Regions from separate parts of the Homo sapiens genome. Here all the other regions are linked to region 1. Evidence: fine-mapped QTL for protein levels in blood plasma. A gene starts in region 1. Each other region holds a variant in brackets. All regions are shown on one strand. Distances are between the middles of the regions.

Region 1 (5,104 bases):
ATGTGTACCCCACTGTGCTGTTCTCCTATTCTCAGTTCATCTCTTTGCATCTCAACTTGGAAGGTAAGAACTTAATCAGGATGCACTGAACAATTGGCAGAAACTCATGTGAATGTAACTATCTTGTCCAGTTCCTTAACCTGTGCTAAGTCCAGGCAGGCACCTGAAGAAAAAAAAAAAAAAGCATGAAGGAGGCTTTTGCCCAAATGGCACTATACTTGGGGGATTCTGAGTAGGGCTGAAACAGCCTTTGCAAAAATTATAACTGAGGAAATTATGGCAGTGACAAAGATCAGACCTAAATGACTCAGTCTTTCTTCTAACTTTCATGCTGTCCTTATTCATTCCTGGGCATAGGCCAAACTAACCTTAGAAAGGAATTCAGTTTATGGTTTGACTCAGAAACAAAATCAATAATAGCCCTTTCCCGAAAAGACCCCCTTCTTGCCTGGGTGCCAGTCTGCCTTTGTACGATTAATCTATTAGTTACAACATTAGAAATTATGGTTTAGGGGTCCTGCGGCGTCAGGCTGCAAGAGTCTGAACCTTCCCAAGTTGCTGCTGGGGATAACATCGCTATTGTAAAATCTAACATCCTATTTTGCAGACCCTGCACTGGATGGATCAGCTGACACCACTCAGACCGTGTGTGATCTGGCTCAACCAGTTCTGCGATCCCACCCAGGAACAGAAGACTGCAAGAAAACGTTACTTCAACCCCCCTGTGATCCCATCTGCAACCTGACCAATCAGCACTCCCCAAGTCCCAAGCCCCTATCTGCCAAATTATCTTTAAAAACTCCCAGAGGCAGGGTGCAGTGGTTCAACGCCTGTAATCCCAGCACTTTAGGTGGATCACGAGATCAAGAGATCAAGACCAGCCTGGCCAACATGGTGAAACCCCGTCTCTACTAAAAATACAAAAATTAGCTGGGTGTGGCGGCGCGTGCCTGTAATCCCAGCTACCCAGGAGGCTGAGGCAGGAGAATCGCTTGAACCCGTGAGGCAGAGGTTGCAGTGAGCCAAGACCATGCCACTGCATTTCAGCCTGGGCGACAGAGGGAGACTCCGTCTGAACAAACAAACAAACAAACAACTCCCGGAATGCTTGGGGAGACTGATTTGAGTACTGGAATCCCAGTACTTTAGGAGGCCAAGGTAGGTGGATCATTTGAGGTCAGGAGTTCCAGACCAGCCTGGCCAACATGGTGAAACCCCGTCTCTACTAAAATTAGAAAAATTAGCCGGGTGTGGTGGTGGGCGCCTGTAATCCCAGCACTTTGGGAAGCCAAGGCAGGTGAATTATCTGAGGTCGGGAGTTTAAGGCCAGCCTTAAACTGGCGAAACCCCGCCTCTACTAAAAATACAAAAATTATCTGGGCATGGTGGCATGTGCCTGTAATCCCAGCTACTCGGGAGGCTGAGGCAGGAGAATCGCTTGAACCCGGGAGGCGGAGGTTGCAGTGAGCCGAGATCACGCTATTGCACTCCGGCCTGGGCAACAGAGCGAGACTCCGTCTCAAACAAACAAACAAAGGAACGAAAACCTCCGGTCTCCGGCACGGCAAGCTCTGCGTGAATTACTTTCTCCATTGCAACTCCCCTGTCTTGATAAATGGGCTCTGTCTAAGCAGCGGGCAAGGTGAACTCGTTGGGCTGTTACAGGACCAGTGACAGACCAAGGGCATGCCACTGAAGGAATCCCTAGACGCACCCTTCTGGATGTGAGACAGGCGGATCTCACCCACGCCTGCCAGCAGCTCCTCGGAGAACTGTGTTCCTGGGTCAGCCCTGGCCCAGAGGAGCGCCGGGGACCCGCAGAGTGCTGCTGAAGTCAAGGCTACAACTCACCTAGGATCTGGGGCGCCAGCCCTCCGGTGGGCAGGGCGTTCTCCTCCCCCACCCCCTCCCCGCACGATGACATCAAGTGTTTGGCGTTGAGTTGCTCCATAAAAGCTGCCCGGGGAAGCCAGGAGAGCGAAGGGCGGACGTACTCGCCACGGCACCCAGGCTGCGCGCACGCGGTCCCGGTGTGCAGCTGGAGAGCGAGCGGCCACCGGGAGCCCCCGGCACAGCCCGCGCCCGCCCCGCAGGAGCCCGCGAAGATGCCCCGGCGCAGCCTGCACGCGGCGGCCGTGCTCCTGCTGGTGATCTTAAAGGAACAGCCTTCCAGCCCGGCCCCAGTGAACGGTAAAGTTTCCGCCTGCTTCTTTCCTAACACTCCTGAGCGCTCAGCCGCCCCTGGGCTGAAGGCTCTTCAATGATAAAGTAAAATCATTGCTGCGGGGAGCAGGGAAGGTGTAGTACCAAATAGTAGATTCTCAAGAAAGGATGCTCCGTTTTCCTTTGCTGAGGTTGGGTCGGGAAGCACGTTGCTTTCTAGTGGCGCTTGGCGCAGATTTGGTGTTAAAATGTTTGCGTGTACTCCCGGGCACCGCCAGCTCTGAAGATGTGGCTTGGGAACTTGCTAACCAGGGAGGAGATGCAAAGCCAAGATTTAAAACAGCGTTCCCCTGATCCACGTTTAGAAAGTAGAGACATGACTGTGGCATTCTGATTGGGGTAAGCACAGAGAAAGGTTTGCTGTGCCCCTGTGCAGAACCCGCAGACAGTGGTAGGCGCTTTTCTTTGGAGGAGAGGATCTTTACCATTAAGTCTTACCTACAAGTCAAAGGGATGATGCATCCCATTCTTAATCATTGTTTTTCTCCAGGAGGGCTCTACTATGCTGAATGTACGTGTGTGTGCACGTACACACACACACGCACGCGCGCACGCACACAAACCACACACACACACACACACACACACACAGCATATTTCTGATTGTAATTAGAACACTAAATCCCAAAAGGCTGGAGGCTGAGGGACTGAATGGAGGCTCCGTGGAGTGACAGGAGGAGGTGGCAGAGGGGACCTGAACTGTGGGCTCACGCCGGGCCAGTGAGCTAACACGTGTACAGCCAAGGCTGGTTCATTAATCTTTTGGAATAAGAAAGTGATTTTGGACCGAAAGTGATTTTACTGGCTGAAACTAGATTCTTCCTGGCGAGGCAGTGGTGGTGGGAAATGTGTCCTGCTCAGCAGCATAAAAGCTCTGAGCCTCCTCTCTTGGAGGTCACAGTGCCCATGGGGAAGGGCAGGGGAGCCAGGCTGTGGATAACTCTTAATTAAATTCCAGTCAACTAGCTGGCATGATGTGCTTGATATTATCTCCCTCATCTGGTCAGGGAGAAACAGAAGCGATGTAACAGAAGTTGGGAGAAAGGAGCGATGTAAAAGTGAAAATCAAGTTTTAAAACCACAAACTTTACATGTTTCCTTTTACGAAAGCTGCACTGAGACCAAAGTTTCCCTGGAAATCTCTTTAGTCCTAAGTTGCTCCAAGACCAAAGGGAGAAACAGCCATTAGTTGGCCCTCTTTCCTATAGCTGGTTGCTCCTCTCACTCTGGGGCAGCTCTGCCTCCCTTCTCTCTCTTTTCCTGCCCTTCCCTGTTCTCTTCCCTCCCTCCCCTTCCTTTCTTCCCTACTTTCCCTGCTCTTCCTCTTCCCTCTCCCTTTCCCTCCTCCTTATCTCCTCTCCCAATTCTCCAAGTTGGGACTGGGGAAGTTTGTAGTCAAAACTCCACTTTCGCCTCACTCTGAGGAAGGAGACTGCCTACCCCTGGGTAGAGCACAGCTTTTATTCTGTAAATTCTCATGCAGTTTCCTTGGGTTTTTAACTGCCTTAGAGGACAGGTCAAAGCAAAAATCACTGAGGTGTAGAATGTCAGCATGAACCCAAAGTTGGAGGTGGAGAGGAGTTAAGCTGAGTAATGGGGTCAAAGTGTGATCTGCTCTCTGCCTGGTGCATTTAAACTTCCAGCATTGGAGAATGTTCAAGAACAATGTCAGGGGCCCAGGAGGGAGCATAATAATGTGAAGTCAAGTGTCTTCTGGAGAAACCCTTGGAATTCTTAGTTGCCGTGGCTTTGGGGGGCATTTCAGTGAATTCTGCAGAGCTTGCCCTGCCCAAACCTGGTGTGGAGAGCCAGGCAGTCTTGGGCTACCCAGGAGATGGTTACTCAGGGAAAGTTCTAGCACCCAGCACAGGAAGCAGGCAGGGCCCAGGACCTCTGATATGGATCTTGGTAAATACCATTTTCTCTGGGCATTCCCTCCAGGGGAACCTCCCTGCCCAGTACCAGCTGGGTCTGCAGGTTCTAACAGGTTTCAGGCTGAGCCTCCCAGGTTTCCCAGATGGAACAGATAACCTTCCTTGGGAAGGAAACTATTCCCCTCCAGGAAGGGCCTGCTCCCTCAGGATGCCACTGAGGCCTTGGCCTGGCCTCGCTTGTGGAATCAGTTTAATCCTTTTAAGCCTTCTGTTCTTACAGCTAGAAGTGGGGAACCAGGGGGTGCAATTCCTGAATAAAGCACACTTTCGTGCGCGTGCACACACACACACGCACACATACACACACTTTTAGAGAGACTTCCTGAGGTCAGAGCTGAGCTGGGGCCCTGATCCTCACCCGATGAACCCCCTTGACTCACCATCCTCACTTACAACGCCGCTTCTCCCCAGCCCTCCAGCTCCTGAGCCCCTCCAGACACTGCCATTTATACCCAAAGTGCCGAGTCTGGAGTCCCAAGCCAGCTCACTCACAGAGAGGAGGGCAGGGAATGTTGCTCTGGAGGCTGCTGCCTTTCAACAAGTCCCCAGTCCTATGTCACCACCGCGACCTCACAGTCCCAGATGTCCACTCTATGACTTTTAGCCCTGAGCTTTCCAGAGTGTGATGCTGAGGCCTCATCTGAGGATGAGAACTCCAACAACAGGGAAAACCTTGATTAGCGAGCCCTGGGAGGGTAGCAGAAGATGTAGGGTATAAGGCTATGATTTGAATGTGAGCAGGTACAATGCAAACTGCTGGCAAGGCAGCAGTGCTCAGGCAGCAGATGTGTTTCTAGTGGCCTCCAGGATCACTGGAGTGGCCTGTGCCTCCTCAGGGGAAAAGTAAGGGTGAACTCCTCTGTTATTTGTGGAATTTTACATCCTGGGCCTCCAACTGTTCTGCCTGCTAAGAGGTAATGATCTGGCTTATTATATCTCTAAGGTCT
Region 2 (5,104 bases), 67 kb after region 1:
AAAATCTTGGGACCCCAAACTTACTGTGCCAAAGGGAAAAGTTCAGTTTGGGAACTGAGTCATGCAAAAACTGCCTTCCATTTTGTTTCTAAATAGCTAGCTGCAAAAATAGAGGGCCAAGTCCCTCCCCAGGAAGAGCCCCCCTCCACATAATTTGCTTACAAGGAAATTCCTTGTAGGCCCCAAGATATTTACCCTGAAACAATTCTGTTGGATTTCCCCCGACAATGTAAATTAACAGCATATCTTCACAGGTATGGGAGAAAGACAGAAGTCATCCCTTCACTCACCTGAGACAAATGCATATTTGACTGCTTCCTCTACTCGGTGTTTATCTTACAGAAAAATGCAGATTCTCGGAGCACAAGATGAATGCATAATTGACTGTTCCTCTACCCCCTCCTTTCATGAGTAAAATGCAGACTTAGTGAGCACGAATCAAAGCCTAATCAAAGTCTTGAGATAATGTAACCTCTTGCCTTTTTTATCTACTTTCCTTTTTTTTTTTTTTTTTTTTTTTTTTTTTTGAGATGGAGTCTCACTCTGTCACTCAGGCTAGAGTGCAGTGGTGCGATCTCGGCTCACTGCAACCTCCACTTCCCGGGTTCAAGCGATTCTCCTGCCTCAGCCTCCCGAGTAGCTGGGACTACAGGTGCGTGCCCACCACGCCCAGCTAATTTTTTGTATTTTTAGTAGAGATGGGCTTTCACCGTTATTAGCCAGGATGGTCTCGATCTCCTGACCTCGTGATCTGCCCGCCTCGGCCTCCCAAAGTGCTGGGATTGCGGGCGTGACTGTGCCCAGCCCCCCTCCTCCCTTTTCTTTCTTTCCTCTTTCCCCTATGGTCTCTTCTTTCCCTTTAAATATTGAAGTCCTAAAACCCTCTTTGGAAAAAGCATGGATCACAGACTTCCTGTGATTTGTGTTCCTTTTTCCTAGGTGCATCCTCGACCTTGACAAAATAAACCTCTCAATTGAGGCTTGCCTCGGTCTTTTTCTTTGGTTTACAGGTGGGAGACAGAAAAAAGTGGTTGGGATCAGATTACAAAAGACCTTGAATAATATCCACTTTCTACCAAGGACAAAGAGAAATCATGAAAGTGCTTAGATTATGGTTTTGTCTGATTACATAAATAATGCATGCCTATTTTTTTGAAAAATGCAAATAATTGTGTATAAAGCAGAAAGTCCCCCCATAATCCTAGCTCCCAAAATAGTCACTTTTAACAATTTAGTGTTAGGCTAAACAATTATCTTTAGCTAACAATTTATTTTCCAGACATTATGTATATTCATATGTATTTTTATACTCATTTTTAAATTTTTAATAAAATGTATTAATAGGATTCTATATTATATGCTGTACAAGGCCCAGCATCATGCCTATTTTCATTCTTAAATTTTCAGTATCTAGCACAATGTCTGGCATAAGAAATACTTGTTGGATGAAAGAATTATCTTTTATTCTTGCTTTTGTTTTCTAGCACATCCTGGATATCCTCATTCTTTTCAGTGGCTATACAATGTCCTGCTGCTTGATGCAATGCCCTATTGATAGGCACTTGCTGCAAATTCCTTACTGTTACAAGACTATTACAAGATCCATGTGTACTTGGATGTATTTCTGTGATACTGTGAAATATATATTTGATCTTCATCTCTGTTTCCTGGCAAACAATTCCTAAAACCTTAGAATCTCCAAAGAGATGTCTTTTTGTACATGATGACTGACTGAAAGCTAGCAGTCCCTAGGCAGCTTCAGGATGGGGCTGGTCTCCAGAAAGCCCATGGCAGGATTACAGGGTTGGGTCTTTGATTACTACCCCTAACCTCTCGGAAGGAGAGGAGGCTCAAGATTAAGTTGACAGCCAATGGCCAAAGGTTTAATCAATCATGCCTATGTAATGAAGTCTCCATAAAAGATTCAAGAGGACAGAGTTTGGGAAGCTTCTCAATAGTGGACCGTGTGGAGGTTCTTGGAGGGTGGCACACCAGAGAGGACATGAAAGCTCTGTGTCGCTTCCACCACACCTCGCCTTATGAATCTCTGCATCTGTATCTCGCTTCCACCACACCTCGCCTTATGAATCTCTGCATCTGTATCCTTTATAATACACTTTATAATAAACCAGCAAATGTGTTTCCCTGAGTTCTGTGAGCCACTCCAGCAAATTAATTGAACCCCAAAGCAGGGTTGTGGGAACCCCAACTTGAAGTTGGTCAGTCTGAAGTTCAGGAGGCCTGGATATGCAACTGGTGTCTGAAGGGAGCGTGGTTTTGGGGACTGAGCCCTGAACCTGTGGGATCTGATGCTATCTCCAGGCAGACAGTGTTGGAATTGAATTAGAGGACACCCAGCCGGTGTCTGCAGCAGAACTGATTGCTTGCTTGTTCAGAGAATAGAAAAAACTGTGAGTTTGTGGTCTTTTTCCTCTGACACACCATTTCTATGGGACAAATTCCTAGAAGAGGAATTTGCTGGTTCAAAATATGCACATCTCAAAACTGCATAAATGTAACAGATTCTGCTAAATTACCACCCGAGGGTTGTACTAATATCCTTTTTCATAATATGTCGTTTCTACCATATGCTCAACAATCCTTGTTATTATCAATCCTTTTCACCCTTGATAATCTGATAGTCCAAAATTATTT[T/G]CTTGTTTTGCTTTTATTATTCGTGGTTTAGCATTTTGTTTTATGTTTATTGACTGTTTGCATTTTTTCTGTGAATTATCTGTTTATATGCTTTGATCTCTTTTTACTGTATCATTAATTTTTTTAATTATAGAAGCTTTTTATATATTATAGGTGACAATTCTATATATGTCAAAAATATTTCTCCCCGTCTTCTTTGTTTAGAATGTCTTTTGCACTGCAGTTTTAAAGTTGTATGTAGTCAAATCTGTTTTCTTTCCTCTTTGTAGTTTGTAGCCTAAGTGAAATGTAGAGAAAAGCTCTCCTCCTTTAGACTATAAAACTATTCTAATTTTAAAAGATTCTTTTATGGTTTTATTTTTTGCATTTGAATCTTTAATATGTTTAAATAAGTGAAAGTAAAAACTTAGCTTTGCTTTTTTTTCCCAAATATAATCAAATAAATGATCAAACAGACCCATTTATTGAATAACATATGCTTTCCCCACTGACTTAAAATGCCAATTTTACCATAAATGAAATTCCCATATATACCCGGGCCTGTTCTGAAACTCTACATTCATATCCATGAGTGCAGATTTGTGATATATGTTGGTATCTAGTAGGATAAACAGAAACATTTCACACAACTTTATTCCCTGCGAGTGGCACTGTTATCAATCCGATCTAGATTAGGTAAATTAACAGGACACAAGTTCAGTTATCCCTTTGATAAATTATCAAAAAATTTAAATATTGGCATACCAGGTATTCTTTCATAGTGTGTATATAGCCATTTAATATGGAGAATTGAAATTTCAATCATGACATTTTGTTTAGTTGTTACAGAACAAAAAGTTATGTGTAATAGTGATTCTATATTGCCTATAAACATGTACATTTTAATAATTGTTTTCTTTATAAAAACTACAAATTCAACGTATTTAATAGATACAGAGGATGTCCAGTTAGCTCTAACATATAAAGAGCTTGGAAGCCATCACTCCCATCCTTACAAGAAAAAGCTAAGCAAATGGAAAAATCAACAATTCTTTTGAACCCATCAGAGAACTGAGGTCTCAGGGTAAACCACCACTCCAAAATCTGGAGAGAGAGGTGAATCCAGAGTCACAGCTGAGATTTGCTTACCTGGAGTGCAAGCTGCTGGAGCCATAAACTGGTAGTAACACTTAAATGCTAATGTTGACAAATTGCTGGAGTCTGAGTATGGACTAGTGTAAGGGTGAGAAATACTGTCTTCATTGTAAAATACATCCAGAGTGTTTTCCACAACAAAAGCCTCTCTCCAAGGAAAAAGACTTTACCAAAGCCGTAACCCAGCTGGGGAAAGTTACCTTTCTTCTCCAGCCACCTTCTAGCTTCCTGTCTTATCTAAGGGGGAAAAAGTTAAGAAACTCTCAGCCCAGGGATTCAGGCCCATGAAAATACTGAGATTTAGATTTTATTATTATAATTTTATTATTATACATGTCCCCTCCTCCACATCGCACTGCCATACCAACAGGGCTCTAGTGTTAATTTACAGTGGATTACAGCTGAACGAGTTGCAAGACACAGGCTTTCTCTGAAAAGGGGCACTGAGGGAACTCCACAGTCAAAAGGGGAGACAAAAACAAGACCACCAGAGGAATTCGAAGCCTCTGGCACTAACAGCCACAGCAAACATTAAATATAATCCAACTCCTACCTAGATTAACATAAAATTTACACTCAAGGCTTTTAAAATTCAGTTCCTATTACCCAAGAGGCGATGTCTAGCTTTCAACAAATAATTACAAGGCATATTAAGAGGCAAGAAAAAACAAAGTCTGCAGACATAGAAGGATATGCAGATTTTCTTTTCTTTTTTTTTTTTTTTTTTTGAGACGGAGTTTCACTCTTGTTGCCCAGGCTGCAGTGCAATGGTGTTATCTCAGCTCACCGCAACCTCCGCCTTCTGGGTTCAAGTGATTCTTCTGCCTCAACCTCCCAAGTAGCTGGGATTACAGGTGCCCATCACCACGCCTGGTTTATTTTTTGTATTTTTAGTAGAGATGGGGTTTCACTATGTTGGCCAGGCTGGTTTCAAACTCCTGACCTCAGGTGATCCACCCACCTCGGCCTCTCGAGTGAATTTTGTGGGTTTTTTTAAAAAAGGAATTTGTCCATTTACGTTTTAAAATTTATTGGCATTAAAGTTATCCATACTATCCTTTATTAATTTAATAATGTAGGGCCTATAGTGACGTCTCCTGTCATTACTGATACTTGTGCCTTCTCTTTTTTCCATCTGGCCAGAGCTTTACCAGCTTTATTGGTTTTTTTCAAAGAACCAGATTTTTGTTTCATTTTTCCCCATTGTTTTACTGCTATTTATTTGGTTCCTGTTCTTTTATGATTTCATTTCTTCTCCTTATATTAGCTTTAGTTTGCTCTTCTTTATCGAGTTTCTTAAGTAGAGGCTTAGGTC
Region 3 (5,104 bases), 57 kb after region 1:
TGGAATCAGAGGTTTGAAGAGGGGGGTGACAACGAGACCTCTTTCAAAATATAGGTCTACTACTGTTAGGTGTGAAAGAGAACAGTTGGAAAACGAACAAGTTCTGTTTTTGTTAAAGCTTTATTTGGTGACACTCCCTCCCAAGACCAACAGAATTGGGGAAAGGTCCCAAAGAGAGGAATCCAACTTTTAAAAACGGCCTCATTCCATACCTGAGTCAGGCTGCTCTCTGGCTCGCTCGCTCTCCTCTCTAACAAGAGTTATGTGTTCTTTCTGTTCTAGTATCAAAAAAGGTGATAACAAGGGAGTCATTTACAAGCCAGCCACCAAGATGGAGACTGAGGCCCACGCTTGAGGTCCCCGGAGCTCCCGGGCACATCCAGGAAGGACCTTGCTTTGGACCCTACACACTTCGGCTCTCTGGACACTTGCGACACCTCAAGGTGTTCTCTGTAGCTCAATCTGCAAACATGCCAGGCCTCAGGGATCCTCTGCTGGGTGCCTCCTTGCCTTGGGACCATGGCCACCCCAGAGCCATCCGATCGATGGATGGGATGCACTCTCAGACCAAGCAGCAGGAATTCAAAGCTGCTTGCTGTAACTGTGTGAGATTGTGAAGTGGTCTGAATTCTGGAATCACAAACCAAGCCATGCTGGTGGGCCATTAATGGTTGGAAAACACTTTCATCCGGGGCTTTGCCAGAGCGTGCTTTCAAGTGTCCTGGAAATTCTGCTGCTTCTCCAAGCTTTCAGACAAGAATGTGCACTCTCTGCTTAGGTTTTGCTTGGGAAACTCAACTTCTTTCCTCTGGAGACGGGGCATCTCCCTCTGATTTCCTTCTGCTATGACAAAACCTTTAATCTGCACCTTACAACTCGGGGACAAATGGGGACAGGAAGGATCAAGTTGTAGAGAGAAAAAGAAAACAAGAGATATACATTGTGATATATTAGGGACACTTTCACAGTCCTGTCCTCTGGATCACAGACACTGCACAGACCTTAGGGAATGGCAGGTTCAAGTTCCACTTCTTGGTGGGGATGAGAAGGGAGAGAGAGCTAGAGGGACAAAGAGAATGAGAAGACATGGATGATCTGGGAGAGTCTCACTTTGGAATCAGAATTGGAATCACATTCTGTTTATCAAGCCATAATGTAAGGACAGAATAATACAATATTAAGTCCAAATCCAACCTCCTGTCAGTGGAGCAGTTATGTTTTATACTCTACAGATTTTACAAATAATGAGGCTGTTCCTTGAAAATGTGTTGTTGCTGTGTCCTGGAGGAGACATGAGTTCCGAGATGACCCAATCTGCCTTTGAATCTGGAGGAAATAGGCAGAAACAAAATGACTGTAGAACTTATTCTCTGTAGGCCAAATTTCATTTCAGCCACTTCTGCAGGATCCCTACTGCCAACCTGGAATGGAGACTTTTATCTACTTCTCTCTCTCTGAAGATGTCAAATCGTGGTTTAGATCAAATATATTTCAAGCTATAAAAGCAGGAGGTTATCTGTGCAGGGGGCTGGCATCATGTATTTAGGGGCAAGTAATAATGGAATGCTACTAAGATACTCCATATTCTTCCCCGAATCACACAGACAGTTTCTGACAGGCGCAACTCCTCCATTTTCCTCCCGCAGGTGAGAACCCTGTGGAGATGAGTCAGTGCCATGACTGAGAAGGAACCGACCCCTAGTTGAGAGCACCTTGCAGTTCCCCGAGAACTTTCTGATTCACAGTCTCATTTTGACAGCATGAAATGTCCTCTTGAAGCATAGCTTTTTAAATATCTTTTTCCTTCTACTCCTCCCTCTGACTCTAAGAATTCTCTCTTCTGGAATCGCTTGAACCCAGGAGGCGGAGGTTGCAGTAAGCCAAGGTCATGCCACTGCACTCTAGCCTGGGTGACAGAGCGAGACTCCATCTCAAAAAAAAAAAAAAAAAAATTATTCTGTACCATCACAACTTTTCACAACGATGGCAAGCCTTATGTCTTGGGAGCCTGTTTTGCTAGGCAAAGTTACAAGTGACCTAATGGGAGCTCAAATGTGTGTGTGTCTCTCTGTGTGTTTGTGTGTGTGTGTGCACTCAAGACCTCTAACAGCCTCGAAGCCTGGGGTGGCATCCCGGCCTTGCCATTAGCATGCCTCATGCATCATCAGATGACAAGGACAACCCTCATGACGAAGCAACATGAATTAGGGGGCCTCTTGGCCTTGGTCCAAAATTGTCAATCAGAAATGAACATAAAGGACTCCAGAGCAGTGGGACTGTCTGTCAAAAGACTCTGTATATCTTTTGTGGATGAGTTTTGTGAGAGAACAGAGAGACCATTGTACCTGGCACAAGGGCTGTTCATGAAAAGGGAGACTTACTGGGAGGTGCAAGACAGTGGCATTTCTCCTCTCCTCTTGCTGCTCAGCACAGCCCTGGATTGCAGCCCCGAGGCTGAGACCAGACAAAGCCCGGGAGGCAGAAAGATGCTCCAAGAACCAACACTATCAATGTCTTTGCAAATCCTCACAGGATTCCTGTGGGTCCAGCTTTGGAACTGGGAAACCTTTCTTCGGATCCGCACTCATTCCACTGATGCCAGCTGCCCCTGAAGGATGCCAGTACTGTGGTGTGTGAGTCTCAGCAGCCGCCCACACGCTCCTAACTCTGCTGCATGGCAGATGCCTAGGTGGAAATAGCAAAAACAAGGCCCAGGCTGGGGCCAGGGCCAGAGGGGAAGGCCCTGGATTCTCACTCATGTGAGATCTTGAATCTCTTTCTTTGTTCTGTTTGTTTAGTTAGTATCATCTGGTAAAATAGTTAAAAAACAACAAAAAACTCTGTATCTGTTTCTAGCATGTGCTGCATTGACTCTATTAATCACATTTCAAATTCACCCTACATTCCTCTCCTCTTCACTAGCCTCTCTGAAGGTGTCCTGGCCAGCCCTGGAGAAGCACTGGTGTCTGCAGCACCCCTCAGTTCCTGTGCCTCAGCCCACAGGCCACTGTGATAATGGTCTGTTTAGCACTTCTGTATTTATTGTAAGAATGATTATAATGAAGATACACACT[G/A]TAACTACAAGAAATTATAAATGTTTTTCACATCAGGCTGTTCTTTTTTTTTTTTTGGAGGCGAGGTTAAAGCATTACTATTTGCAAAGCACTCTGTAGCTCCCTGTTATGGGGATAGGTAACTAATCAGAATAATAATGTCACTCGCATCCACTTCTTAGAACCTGGCTCCAAAGGAAAATAAGCTGATAGACTCAATCACTTTCCTGAGGATGGAGGCCTATGGCATGTGTGGCTGCAGGTCGCGAAGCTGCTTAATGGTGCTGGGAAGCCTAGAGGAATTAAATAAAGACCCTGGAGGAGGTGGGATCGGAGCTGCACCTTGAACAAATAGCTCAGATTTGAACAGATGGATGGAAAAGAGGGAGGTGTTCCCAACCAAGGGGACATGATACAGGGAACAGGTCCTATGTCTCTTTACTCCTGAGAGTATTAAACCTAGTAGGTGGGCAGCCCCTCTTGGTTGCCTGTTACCTTATTTTGAATTCTTTTTGCAAAACATACTATCACCCGTCCAAATAATCTTTTGTCTAAATCCAGACTTCACATTCTGACTGGGGCAAAAAGAGGCAGTCCAGTAAAGGTTATAAAATAGGTACCATCATTGTTTGCCTTATTTAGAAAAGCATCCAATTTTCACTATAATCACCCTAAGCCTGAGAGAGGTGAACTGTTCAAGGGTACTTTGGCTCCAGTGGGTGACAGTACCTGGCCCAGCTTTGGAATTGAAACATTTCTGATGGTCTGTACTCTGCTAGAACACAGGATGCTTCTGCTCTCCCTGCTCTGGCATCCTGCCAGGTGTCATGGCCACGCACAGGCATGAAGACAGCCGGGAAGCCAGAGTTCCCACGAAGCACTCACTCCTTGGACTTGCTCCCACCCCACTGGGGAGAGCACTCCTGGAGCAGGAAATGAGCATCTCTCATCTCCCTGAATTCCACATCCACTGGCTGAATGATCAGGGAGGCATAGCAGTGAGAGCCATAGGTCGGCAGAGGGAACTCAGGCCCTCCTTTAGGATGGCCATCACCTCATCTCAATCCAGCCAAATCAACCATCTAGAGCACACAGGCCGAGAGAAATGTAATAAAATATAACATGAGACACGTATGAAATTTAAACTTTCCGGTAGCCACACTAGAAAAAGGTAAAAAAAAAAAAACCAGTGACATTAATTTAAATTTAATTTTAGATAATCCAACAGATCTAAAATACTATCATTTCCACATGTAACCAGTATTTTCATGTGTTTTTTTCTGCAGTAAATCTTTGAAATCTGGTGTGTGTTTTACACTGACAGCACACTCGATTCAGATGCTAGATTTTCCTTGTAGATATTTGGTCGTTATTTAGATTTCATAAAATTTACAGTTTAAAAGATTCCAATATCCGAGTTGCTCCAAACACACTTAGAAGTTGTTTTCCAAATAATGGAATCAATGATCGGCTTTTAGATGTAAACTTATTAAAATAAAGTAGCGTTTCTCAGTTAAGTCACATTCCAAGCGCTCAAGATCCATGCCCTGCGCAGACCCGGACGACGAACCCGACTTTCAGAGACTGAGGGTTCTGCCTAGAGAGCTCCCACAGAAATCAGCCCGAGAAGAAAGCCTTGTGGGTGAAGCCAGGGAGGGAGACAGGAGGGCAGGAGGAAAATCAAGCCTAAATGAGCACATCGTGGACGCCGCTCTTCCTCTCCCCACATCTCCTCGCCTCGCCGCAGTGGGCCCGGCTGTGCCCCAGGTCCCCGCGGTCGGGAGTGAATGGCGCTCGGGTGGCAGGCACGTGGGCACCTGGTGAACTGCAGGACCCTGGCACCGCCACCCCCTCGCCCCTACACACACAGGAGTGCCCCTCCCGTTGTCACGTGGCCTTCCTGCTGGGTATCTGGAGCAGTTGCAGCCTCGCTTCCGGAAGGAAACGGGGCCTCTGGGGCACAGGGACCACCTGCCAGTGCGTTCCAGCCGGGCTGCCATCCACACTGGAGACCGCCCCGCACGTGGTCCTCGGGCTCGGATTCAGCTGTC
Region 4 (5,104 bases), 43 kb after region 1:
ATGTCTTCTGATTGGCTTGCATGTTTTTTTTTCCTAATGAGGCTGTATGTACCTCATTTCCCAACATGCTCATTTGTCTGACGTGGCTTTTGTGAACTCAGAGCTCCTTAAGTTCTGTGTGACATGGATGTTAGTCAAAGCCTTCAGGCTCATATCTGGATCATCAAGAGCACACACGGTACCCTATGCCCCAGGACATTCAAGCCCAACTCCTTAAGCTGAAAACAGGACGTCCTGAGATGCAAGAGGCAGGACCATTACACTAACTCCCAAGAGCCTAGTGATCCATCATAATTGTCCAGTAAAGTGGATCCTTCAGGCAGTGGTGGCAACATACCCACAGCTTTGCCCTTCTGATAGCAATCGTCAATCCTGGCTCAGCCTATCCTGTTCTGTCCCAGTTTAACCTGCCCTGTCTCTGTTGCAGATGGGCTCCTTCAATCCGTCCTATGACAAGATCTTCAGTCACCTTCAACATGTAAAGTACAAAGGTGAGGGGTCCTTGCATGCATATTCACTCTCTGCTGGAGAAGGAGGTAGTCAGCCCTGTGTGACTTTAAGAAAAGCAAACACAAGGGGCAGGTGCTGTCTGTGTTCACCAGGTTAAGAGCAGCAGGTTGTTGAACAATGTTGCAACCAGGTCCTGGGGTTAGATGACCCTGAAAGGGGCTAGTTCATGTTTCTAGGCTCAGTCGCTCTGTTCAGCTGCACTTATGCCCTACGGAGGGAGGCTGACACTATCACCTCTGCAACATGTCTCTCTAGGCCAGGAAGCATTCGTCCCGGGATTCAACATTGAAGAGCTGCTTCCGGAGAGGACCGCTGAATATTACCGCTACCGGGGGTCCCTGACCACACCCCCTTGCAACCCCACTGTGCTCTGGACAGTTTTCCGAAACCCCGTGCAAATTTCCCAGGAGCAGGTAACTGTCGTGCCAGACTCAGCCAGAGTCCACGCGGCACCTCAGTCCCCATCATCCTCCATATCACAATCAATGACTTGATTTCCTCATTTAGTTTCATTGGCAGCTCTTCAAAACCTCTCCAAATATCACAGGTGTCTGAAAGCACCGCAGAAATTCCAGGCTGAGCTTCAAAAGAAGTCAAGCTAGGCAAATGAATAGATGTCTCCTAGTTCTTTTTTAAAAAAAAGAGCTCTAAATCTGCATTTGCTAATATATCCTCAGTGGCTGGGTGGTATTCACTTCCCAGGCAGGAGAGAGCCTGGTTCCTTTACAGGGCAGAATAAAGACAGGATCAGATGAAATCATTTAAGAGATGGGATTGCAGCAATGACTAAGTGAGGGTCCCTGCCCCCAAGAAGCTCAAGGTCTAGTGCAAACTGGGGAACAAAATCCTTAGCCATCACCTCTAAAGCTTCTTATTTGATAGGAGATGAGAGAGAAGAGTAGAAGTCTGTGGGATCACCCGCGGGTTAGTGACAAAGCTGAGACCCAAAGTTAGGTCATCTGAGTTCCATGTCACTGCTCATACCTGTCCTCCACAGCCTAAATTCATGAGAAGAAAAATGGCTCCCCAGGAGACGGGGCTGGGGCCAGCACTACACCCTGGCTCACAGCCCCACGCCAGCTTCATGCGTCCAGGGCAGCCTCACAGCTGCTCCTCTTTACAGTAAGCTTCTGCTCTGAGTCACCTGGTAAATGGCAGCAGGTGGGTGGACAGGAATGAGGACATGATGAACCAAGAGATGGATGAAACATGTGGGGAAGCAGCAACATCCTACCTCAGAAACTGCCTTGGGAAAGGGTTATATAATCTATGCAGGTGCATGAAAATGCCATGGAACCCGCAATCAGATGGCCTGTGAAACTCTTAACTCCCTCCTTTATTCCTTCTGATATGACCATCAGAACAAGCCCTGCGACCCTCTGGTTGAGAGCTGGCCTCTAATTTAAGTTCATGAGAGGAACTCAGTCTCTGTGGAGGTTAAGGAGCACTCCATCACCCCAGGTTTCCCTCCACGCAGGGCAGATTCCAGGTATAATTGGAAACTAACAGCACTGCCTTTCCCTGAAGTCTCGGGTGCTGGGAAGATAAACCCAGCGCTGCCCAGCTCCCACTCACCCACTGTGGAGGGAAGCAGTTCTGTGGCTTTCCCTCTGCTTTCTAATATCTCCCACCCGGCCCCACAGAAGCTGGTTCCAGAGGCTTCTCCCAGGTGCAAGAGCGGAGAGCTAGCCTCTTCCCAGGGGATCAGGTGAGGAGGTCATTCTGCCTGC[G/A]GGCTATTTCTGCTCTTGCCCTCAGCTGCTGGCTTTGGAGACAGCCCTGTACTGCACACACATGGACGACCCTTCCCCCAGAGAAATGATCAACAACTTCCGGCAGGTCCAGAAGTTCGATGAGAGGCTGGTATACACCTCCTTCTCCCAAGGTGAGGAGAGGCAGTGCTGGGGGGAGGGGGTGCGGGAGTGTGGTGCCAAGACATTGGGATCTTCTGTGAATGCAGCTCTGGCACTGATGCCCTCAAGAAGTTGGCTGAGAGCTCCCTGGCTGCCACGGGAACCAGGCGCCTTGTGAGACTAGGTGTGGGGCTCACTGGGGTCCCCCCTTCAGTGAGTCTTTGCAGAGAAGCAAAAAGCCGAGGCCCCCAGGCACATGGACCAGAGCACTCTTTAAGCCTGGGAGTCTTGCACAGATGGGTAAGAGAGAATTCCCTGGGGACTTCTCTGTTCCAGACAATGATCCCTTCTCTAAGACACAGGATAGGACCCTTTCCATGAGATCAGACTTCTAACTTCCCTCCCTAGGCTTTCTTGGCATCAAAGGCTGCAGCCAGCCTATCTTAGGCCTGGCCAGGTGATTCATGCACCACCACCAAATGAGCAAGAATGTTCCTATGTTAGATGTAAAACAGTGAGTGTAACCCACAACCATGTCTAATGTAGCAGGGCCTGTTAGGCAAGGAAGCACCCTTGTGCACTGCATTTTTGTCTAACCTCCTTGGAGCTTGCATAAGCACAAGCACATAAGTTCCCAATTGAACAAAACTTAATAGCTTGGTTTCTTCCTAATGCTACAAGGGCTCGGGTCTCCCTTTCACAGCTGTAACCAATAACTCCCCAGTAGAACATTAACCGTTTTCCTTGCTCAGTGCCTACATCAACACTGCTGGAAACTGGGCATCAGGGGAAAGGGGTGAGGGAGCACTTTTGGGGCCCACACCCCTCTTCAGACCTCTGAGTTCACTTTCAAGCTCACTTTCTTACTGTAGATTCTCGACTGCTTCCCAGCTTGGGAATCTTCATGGCTGGTCTGTGCAGTTCCATTTCATCCCCAGCATCACGTGTGGACCAAACCGGGCCTGGCGTTCATATTTAAAGATAACCCGTTCTCACCTGCAATCCCAGCACTTTGGGAGGCCAAGGCAAGCGGATCACCTGAGGTCAGGAGTTCAAGTCCAGCCTGACCAACATGGTGAAACCCCATCTCTACTAAAAATACAAAAATTAGCCGGGCACGGTGTCTTGCCTCCTTTGGGAGGCCGAGGTGGGTGGATCATGAGGTCAGGATTTCGAGACCAGCCGGACCAACATGGTGAAACCACGTCTCTACTAAAAATACAAAAATTAGCCGGGCGTGGTGGCACATGCCTGTAATCCCAGCTACTCAAGAGGCTGAGGCAGGAGAATCGCTTGAACCCAGGAGGCAGAGGTTGCAATGAGCCGAGATCACACCACTGCACTCTAGCCTGGGTGACAGGGCGAGACTCCGTCTCAAAAAAAAACCAAAAAACAAAAACAAAAGAAACCCGTTAACCCACTTGTCAGAATCTGCTCTCCTCGTCTCACCTGGTGCACTTTTTTGGGTTCCTTTCTTATTATATGAGGTTATAACGATCACCTCCTAAACTTAGTTGAACATATGGAGACTGTATTTGAAGGCCCTTTCCAGGAAGCTTTAGAAACTGACCCATCCTTACGGTCAGGATTACATCATTCTCTGTCTTTTCATGAAGAACTGCCCAAGAATTTGTCTTTTGTGTTTTCTCCTCTCCAGGTACAACTAATTAAGATCATTTCCCTCTTTCCTCAGTTTCTCAGTTGGAAAACAGAATCTGTGAACAGTAGCCTTCCTGAAAATTCAAAATCCATGTGATGATAACTAACAGTTTCTTTTCTAGGAAATGAACTGAGTGCATGGAATGTATCTGTTATGGATACAACGCTGTCTTTTCTCATTCTTCTAAGTGGAGAATGTAGTATCCAAGGGTTAAATGGAACTACTTCAACTCTTAAAACCAAAAACATAAAAACTCTGCCAGGAGATTAGGAACTTTGCCCACATAGATCAGATAGAATTTTGCTCGCGATCCCAGGACCCCATTGCCGGCTCTGTTCTCTGAGCTCACCTATGCACACCCAGGGAAGGGGTGGCACATATTCTCCTTACAGTCAGGAGGCCTAGGTTCAAGGCCTGGCTTTGCTTCCTCCTGGCTGCAGGCTGTGGACAAATCGTGTCCCTTCTTCAGGCCTTGGTTTCCTCAGCCACAAAATGCCAGGTAATCCCAGCTACTCAGGAAGCTGAGGCAGGAGAATCGCTTGAACCCGGGAGGTGGAGGTTGCAGTGAGCCAAGATCATGCCACTGCACTCCAGCCTGGGTGACAGAGTGAGACTCTGTCTCAAAAAAAAAAAAAAAAAAAAAAAAAGCCAGGTTGGATTAGGTGATCTCATGTCCTTTCGGTGCTAATATGTTGTGATGGTTAAGTGGACACTAACAACTGCCAATCCTGACTTTACATTGCAGGGACAGTGTTTGAGGGCAGTTACAGAGGATCAGAAGAAACCGGGCAGGAGCTTGACTCTGACATCCAAAAGTAACCCCCGCTTGTAACGATGGACTATGGCATTGGGGATAATTAGCCATCTTCTTAGACCGGCTTGTGTCTAAGCAGCTGCTTGTAGTGGGGCAGCGTAGGCAGGTTTTTAGCCAAGCGCTTCAGTAGATTCTCCCAGTCTGGATAGGGGAGCTTGAGGGGCCTCTAAGCAGAAGTCTGGAGACCATCTCCCAGCTTAGGACGTCAAGATCAAAGCCCAAATGCAGCGTTGCCACTGCTCTTCCTCCACGGTTTGCCCAGAGCTGGTG
Region 5 (5,104 bases), 370 kb before region 1:
GTGGCTCACACCTGTAATCCCAGCACTTTGGGAGGCCAAGGCGGGTGGATCGTTTGAGATCATGAGTTCGAGACTAGCTTGACCAACATGGTGAAACCCCGTCTCTACTAAAATTATTTACAAAAATTAGCCGGGCATGATGGCGCGTGCCTATAATCTCATGTACTCAGGGGGCTGAGGCAGGAATTGCTTGAACCTGGTAAGTGGAGGTTATAGTGAAACAAAATTGCACCACTGCACTCTAGCCCAGGTGACAGAGCGAGACTCTGTCTCAAAAAAAAAAAAAAAAAAAAGTAAATAAAAACTGGAATTTCTTTTTGCTAGATTAGCATTTCATTTTCTTATGATCACTTTTTTTTTTACATTTGTAGCCCAGCTAGAACTTTCTATTTGATTATTACTTTCATTAAAATGTATTTTTTTTTCAAATAGGTTTAGAATACATTTTATATGGTTCTTGCCATAATGTACCCTAAGGAATTTATAGGAAGGAAAACTTTATGTCTTGCCATTCTCAGTTATAAGAGGATATTAAGCGTTTTACTTTGTTGTTTCATTCAATCATAACCTGGACAATAACCTGGAAAGATAACATATACATGAAGAATTTGAACTCAGCAACAAAGTTGTGAGCATGAAAAGGCCATTCGTGTTCTCTTAGATTTCTGTATATTCCTTAATCTCTCTGGAGAATCATGCCGTATCCTGCTAAAAGACTTCCTTTGAGGCTCTTTGATAAAACCAGCCTTAAATATTATACTTTGATACTCACAGAAGTATTTTATATTTATGATTCTTTGTTTATAGATTGAAGCTGGACAGTACTGCACTTTTGTCATTTCTACGGATGGCTCTGTTAGAGCTTGCGGGAAAGGCAGCTATGGGAGACTGGGCCTTGGAGACTCCAATAATCAGTCAACTTTAAAAAAGTTAACATTCGAGCCTCACAGATCCATTAAAAAGGTTTCATCTTCTAAAGGATCTGATGGTCACACTTTAGCCTTTACGACAGAAGGAGAAGTCTTCAGTTGGGGAGATGGTGATTATGGGAAACTGGGGCATGGAAATAGTTCAACACAGAAATATCCCAAGCTTATTCAGGGACCTCTACAAGGAAAGGTATGTGCATTCTTTTTGGTTATAAAAATAATTAGATGCATTGGAGTTGTAATTGACAATGTCGTTCAGATTTTGATGTGTTCTTTCTGCAGTTGCCCCTTCAACCCTTTGGCTTAATCTTTTGTATCTCTGCTTTACAGTTTACAGAACACCTTTGTATACATTATTGAATTTTAATTCTTATATTCTTATAATTATTCTTGTAAGGTAGTTATTATCCCTATTTCACAGATAAGCAAACTGAGAGTCATTCATTTAACAAACATTTAGCACTTTTGAAGTGTCAGGCAGTATTTTAGGCATTAGACTTGTAGCAGTGAACAAGACAGATAAGGTCTCTACTTTAATCCTTTAGTCTTCAGGATAGAGATAATAAGTTAACAAGCATATAGAATAATTTCAGATAATATTAAAGAAAAAAATGAGCAATAAAGGTTACCTTGGGCAGGTGTGGTATTAGGTAATGAGGTAGGTCAGAGAGTGCTCTTAGGAGAGGTGGCATCTTAATAGAGACCTGAATGGGGAGGCATTTAGAGTACCTAAGTAATTGCCAAGGACCCACACAAATAATTGGAACCATAAGAAACTGAGCTCATATCTTCTCTTTTTATTAATCTCCCCTCCTCTCTCTTCCTCTCTTTTCTTTCTTTCTTTTTTTGTTAGGTTCTTACTTTGTCACCCAGGCCGGAGTGCAGTGGTGCTATCTCAGCCCACTGCATCTTTGATTTCCTGGGGCTCAGGTGGTCCTCCCAACTCAGCTTTCTGAGTAGCTGGGACTATAGACATGCGCCACCATGCCTGGCTAATTTTCATATTTTTTAAAAGAAACAGGGTTTTGCCATGTTGCCCAGGCTGAACTCGAACTCCTGAGCTCAAACAATCTGCCTGCCTTGGCCTGCCAAAGTGCTGGGATTACAGGCATGTATTTCAGCACTTACTTGAACTCTTAGCCAGTCATCCTTGGCCTGAACACAGCCTCCACAACTGTACCTGGAAATTCCTGGATGGGTTGTGAATATTAGTATCTGTGAAGTCTCTGTGTATAGGATCAAATACGGACTATATGTTTTAACATGTGCATACTCATCGTATTTACTTGTGTGCAATGCAGGTAGTTGTTTGTGTGTCAGCTGGATACAGACATAGTGCTGCTGTCACAGAGGATGGGGAATTATACACATGGGGTGAAGGAGACTTTGGAAGATTAGGTAAGATTTTTTAAAAATGTAAGTTATTCTTCTAGAAAATTAGAAATGATTAAGTTACTGAGAAGCCGTGAGAGCAGATTTACTAGGCCAAAGACT[GTC/C]ATTTATTTTGTTAGTTTAAGCTCAGAGGAAGATAATTTTATATAGATAAGACCTAGATTTTAGTGCTGATATTTAAATGTAATTAAATCTAGCAAGCATTTACTGAGTGTGCCCTATTATGACCAGGCATTGTAGGGTTTCTGGGATAAAAGCAATACCATCATGATCCTGAAGTTTATAATCTAGTGGGTAATGAAAACAAGTCAACATGAGCATGAAACAGGACAACACAAGGTAAGTGCTGTGAGGGGAGCATGAAAAGAATATTCTAATGGTTCACCGAAGTGACTCTATGACCCAGTTTAGGAGCACCTTGGAAGATTGAGAAGATGTTAGAAATGATTGTGTTTTTCATATTGCATTGCATTAAAAAAATCTCAATTCTATTTTAAAGTTGTAACATTTATTATACTTGTGAAGTCAAGGCCTAGAGAAAAAGAGTTAATGTTGTTTCTTTGTTGTTGTGTGTGTTTTATCCAAGGTCATGGTGACAGCAATAGTCGTAACATTCCAACATTAGTAAAAGACATCAGCAATGTAGGAGAGGTTTCTTGTGGCAGTTCACATACTATTGCTCTGTCTAAAGATGGGAGAACTGTATGGTCTTTTGGAGGAGGAGACAATGGTATGTAAAAAATTATTTATCAGTAGCTTTGGCTTTTTTCTTGAGTTTTTTAAAAATTTATTTTTCAGTTATATATGCCTAGTGTAGAATGACTCAAATACAGATGAGCAGAAATTAAAAAATGAACTGAGCTTTTACAAATGTTACTTTAACCATTGTTAACATTTTGGAAATAGACTTCTAAATAAATACACATTTATACAAATATTTACATATATTTCTACTTAGATGTGTTTTTAAAAACCAAAGTATACCTACATGTGTATGTTTTATATAAGTTTATATATGTTTTGACATATATATGTTTTACTCTAATAGTTTTTTTTTTTTTGAGATAGGGTCTTGCTTTGTTACCCAGGCTAGAGTGCAGTGATGCAAACCTGGCTCACTGCAGCCTCAACCTCCTGGGCTCAAGCGATCCTCCTGCCTCAGCCCCCCAAGTAGCTGGGACTACAGGCATGCACCACCATGCCTGACTAAGTTTTGTATTTTTTTTAGAGACAGGATTTTGCTTTATTGCCCAGGCTGGCCTCGAACTTCTGGGCTCAAGTGATCTGCCAGATTTAGTCTCCCAAAGTGCTTGTATTACAGGCATGAACCTCCGTGCCCGGCATGAGTATCTTTTTTATATCAACAAGCATGACTCTACATCATTCTTTTAAATGGCTTGAAGTGTTCTTTTATTTGATGGTGGCACAATTTATAAAACCAGTTTCTTATTGTTGAGTATCTAGATGGTTTCAATTTTTTTCAGTATTAACAACACAATGAATGACTAAATCTATGTCTACTTTAATTAGTCACTCCTACTAGCAGTGTGAATGCTTACTTCCCCATAGTCTTCAACAACAGCATGTATTAAATTTAATTAAATAATTTCAATAGTGAAAATGGTATCATTTAATTTATACTTTTTTTTATTCCTGGTGTGGTTGGATTTGTAGATGATTGGCCATTTGTTTTTCTTCTTTAATGATTTGTCCAGTTTTCAATTTCATGAGCTATTGATTTTTTAAAAAGTTTATGAAAAATTATATGCATATACATTCTTTTTTAAAGTTTATGAAAAATTATACGCATATAGTACCTGTATATTTTGTCAGCAAATTTGAAGTTAGAAATATAGCCATTAAAGGGGGAGAAAGACAGAAAAATAATTGTCTATGTTTCTTTTAAAGTGATTTTAAATTGCTTGATTTTAATTGCTTGAAATTAAGATATAAAAGGCTATCAGTGGTTGTTAACTTTCTTGTAATAAAAATGCTCGTTTGTTAACATCCTCAGCTATCAGAAACATAGCTTTTCATATCTGCCAGGTTAGTGATGGAAACATTAGAGCTCCTTATCAACTTTAGTAGTGTTAAAAAGAGTAGAGGTTCTTTAAAACAAGTAAATTGTTTAATGTGTTTGTTTTTATAGGTAAACTTGGTCATGGTGATACCAACAGAGTGTATAAACCTAAAGTTATTGAAGCTTTACAAGGAATGTTCATTCGCAAAGTTTGTGCTGGGAGCCAGTCTTCACTTGCTTTGACATCAACAGGGCAGGTAGGACTAAGGGATGAGTATAAAAGACTTAGAGTATTTCAGAGGATTAGGTGACTAAAAAGTAATACTTGTATTTAAATTTTAAAGTTCAAATAAATACATTTTTAGGCAACATGCTAAAATGAAATATCTTCTTCTGTTTGAAGTAGAGTATCTGAGAAGGAACCAGGTTTTCTAACCTGGCATATGTGACCCAGATAAATCTTAGTGGAGCCTCTGTTCTTTGTATTAAACTGACTTTCTAAAATGTTTTAGCATTTAGCTTCCCTTAAACCTTTTCTAAAACATTATGGATAGTCGGGGAAAGCTGAACTAGATCTTGATGGAGCCAGTGATATGAACTAAGAAGGCAAGAGGGTGATCAAAAAGGAGGGTAAAGAGAACACTTAGGTATGGAAAATATTCTGAGAGAGTTAGGTGTTTCTGAGAAACAGTGTGAAGTCAAGCTTAGGATAGTCAGAATTTTATGAGCCTTTATAAAGGCTCATAAGCTTTGTACTTTTATA

Which allele goes with the higher level. Positions count from the first base shown, and alleles are read on the strand shown. Strength reflects both the effect of a copy and how common the allele is.
With allele G in place of T in region 2, the plasma level of the protein whose gene starts at base 1,980 in region 1 is higher (moderate association).
For the plasma level of the protein whose gene starts at base 1,980 in region 1, allele G in region 3 goes with a lower level than allele A (moderate association).
With allele A in place of G in region 4, the plasma level of the protein whose gene starts at base 1,980 in region 1 is lower (moderate association).
For the plasma level of the protein whose gene starts at base 1,980 in region 1, allele C in region 5 goes with a lower level than allele GTC (moderate association).

The links. PIP is the chance, under the fine-mapping model, that this variant and not a neighbour inherited with it causes the effect. Protein levels are from antibody-based Olink assays in UK Biobank. Linkage for the fine-mapping came from a reference panel and not from the study's own genotypes, which makes the PIPs less certain.
Region 2: its variant is fine-mapped to the plasma level of the CA12 protein (UK Biobank, PIP above 0.99).
Region 3: its variant is fine-mapped to the plasma level of the CA12 protein (UK Biobank, PIP above 0.99).
Region 4: its variant is fine-mapped to the plasma level of the CA12 protein (UK Biobank, PIP above 0.99).
Region 5: its variant is fine-mapped to the plasma level of the CA12 protein (UK Biobank, PIP above 0.99).

The regions. Positions count from the first base shown.
Region 1 is chr15:63,378,722-63,383,825 of GRCh38, reverse strand. CA12 (carbonic anhydrase 12) reads left to right here and starts at 1,980. Exons shown (of 11, transcript NM_001218.5): 1 at 1,980-2,190. The coding sequence starts at 2,106. RefSeq lists enhancers at 1,256-1,775, 1,776-2,296.
Region 2 is chr15:63,311,307-63,316,410 of GRCh38, reverse strand. No RefSeq gene overlaps it. Among named protein-coding and RNA genes, the nearest start is that of APH1B, 36 kb to the right of the region's middle. The variant T/G (reference allele first, on the strand shown) is at 2,656.
Region 3 is chr15:63,321,536-63,326,639 of GRCh38, reverse strand. It overlaps CA12 (carbonic anhydrase 12), which reads left to right. Exons shown (of 11, transcript NM_001218.5): 11 at 283-5,104. The coding sequence ends at 355. The region is part of intron 1 of LOC124903506 (a long non-coding RNA gene); the gene reads right to left. It overlaps LOC124903505 (a long non-coding RNA gene), which reads right to left. Exons shown (of 2, transcript XR_007064675.1): 2 at 4,244-5,104. Among named protein-coding and RNA genes, the nearest start is that of APH1B, 46 kb to the right of the region's middle. The variant G/A (reference allele first, on the strand shown) is at 3,075.
Region 4 is chr15:63,336,107-63,341,210 of GRCh38, reverse strand. It overlaps CA12 (carbonic anhydrase 12), which reads left to right. Exons shown (of 11, transcript NM_001218.5): 6 at 428-491; 7 at 766-923; 8 at 2,266-2,392. All of the region lies in intron 1 of LOC124903506 (a long non-coding RNA gene), which reads right to left. Among named protein-coding and RNA genes, the nearest start is that of CA12, 43 kb to the left of the region's middle. RefSeq lists an enhancer at 2,086-2,982. The variant G/A (reference allele first, on the strand shown) is at 2,241.
Region 5 is chr15:63,752,452-63,757,555 of GRCh38, reverse strand. It overlaps HERC1 (HECT and RLD domain containing E3 ubiquitin protein ligase family member 1), which reads left to right. Exons shown (of 78, transcript NM_003922.4): 5 at 808-1,119; 6 at 2,231-2,327; 7 at 2,908-3,051; 8 at 4,471-4,598. Among named protein-coding and RNA genes, the nearest start is that of HERC1, 79 kb to the left of the region's middle. The variant GTC/C (reference allele first, on the strand shown) is at 2,424.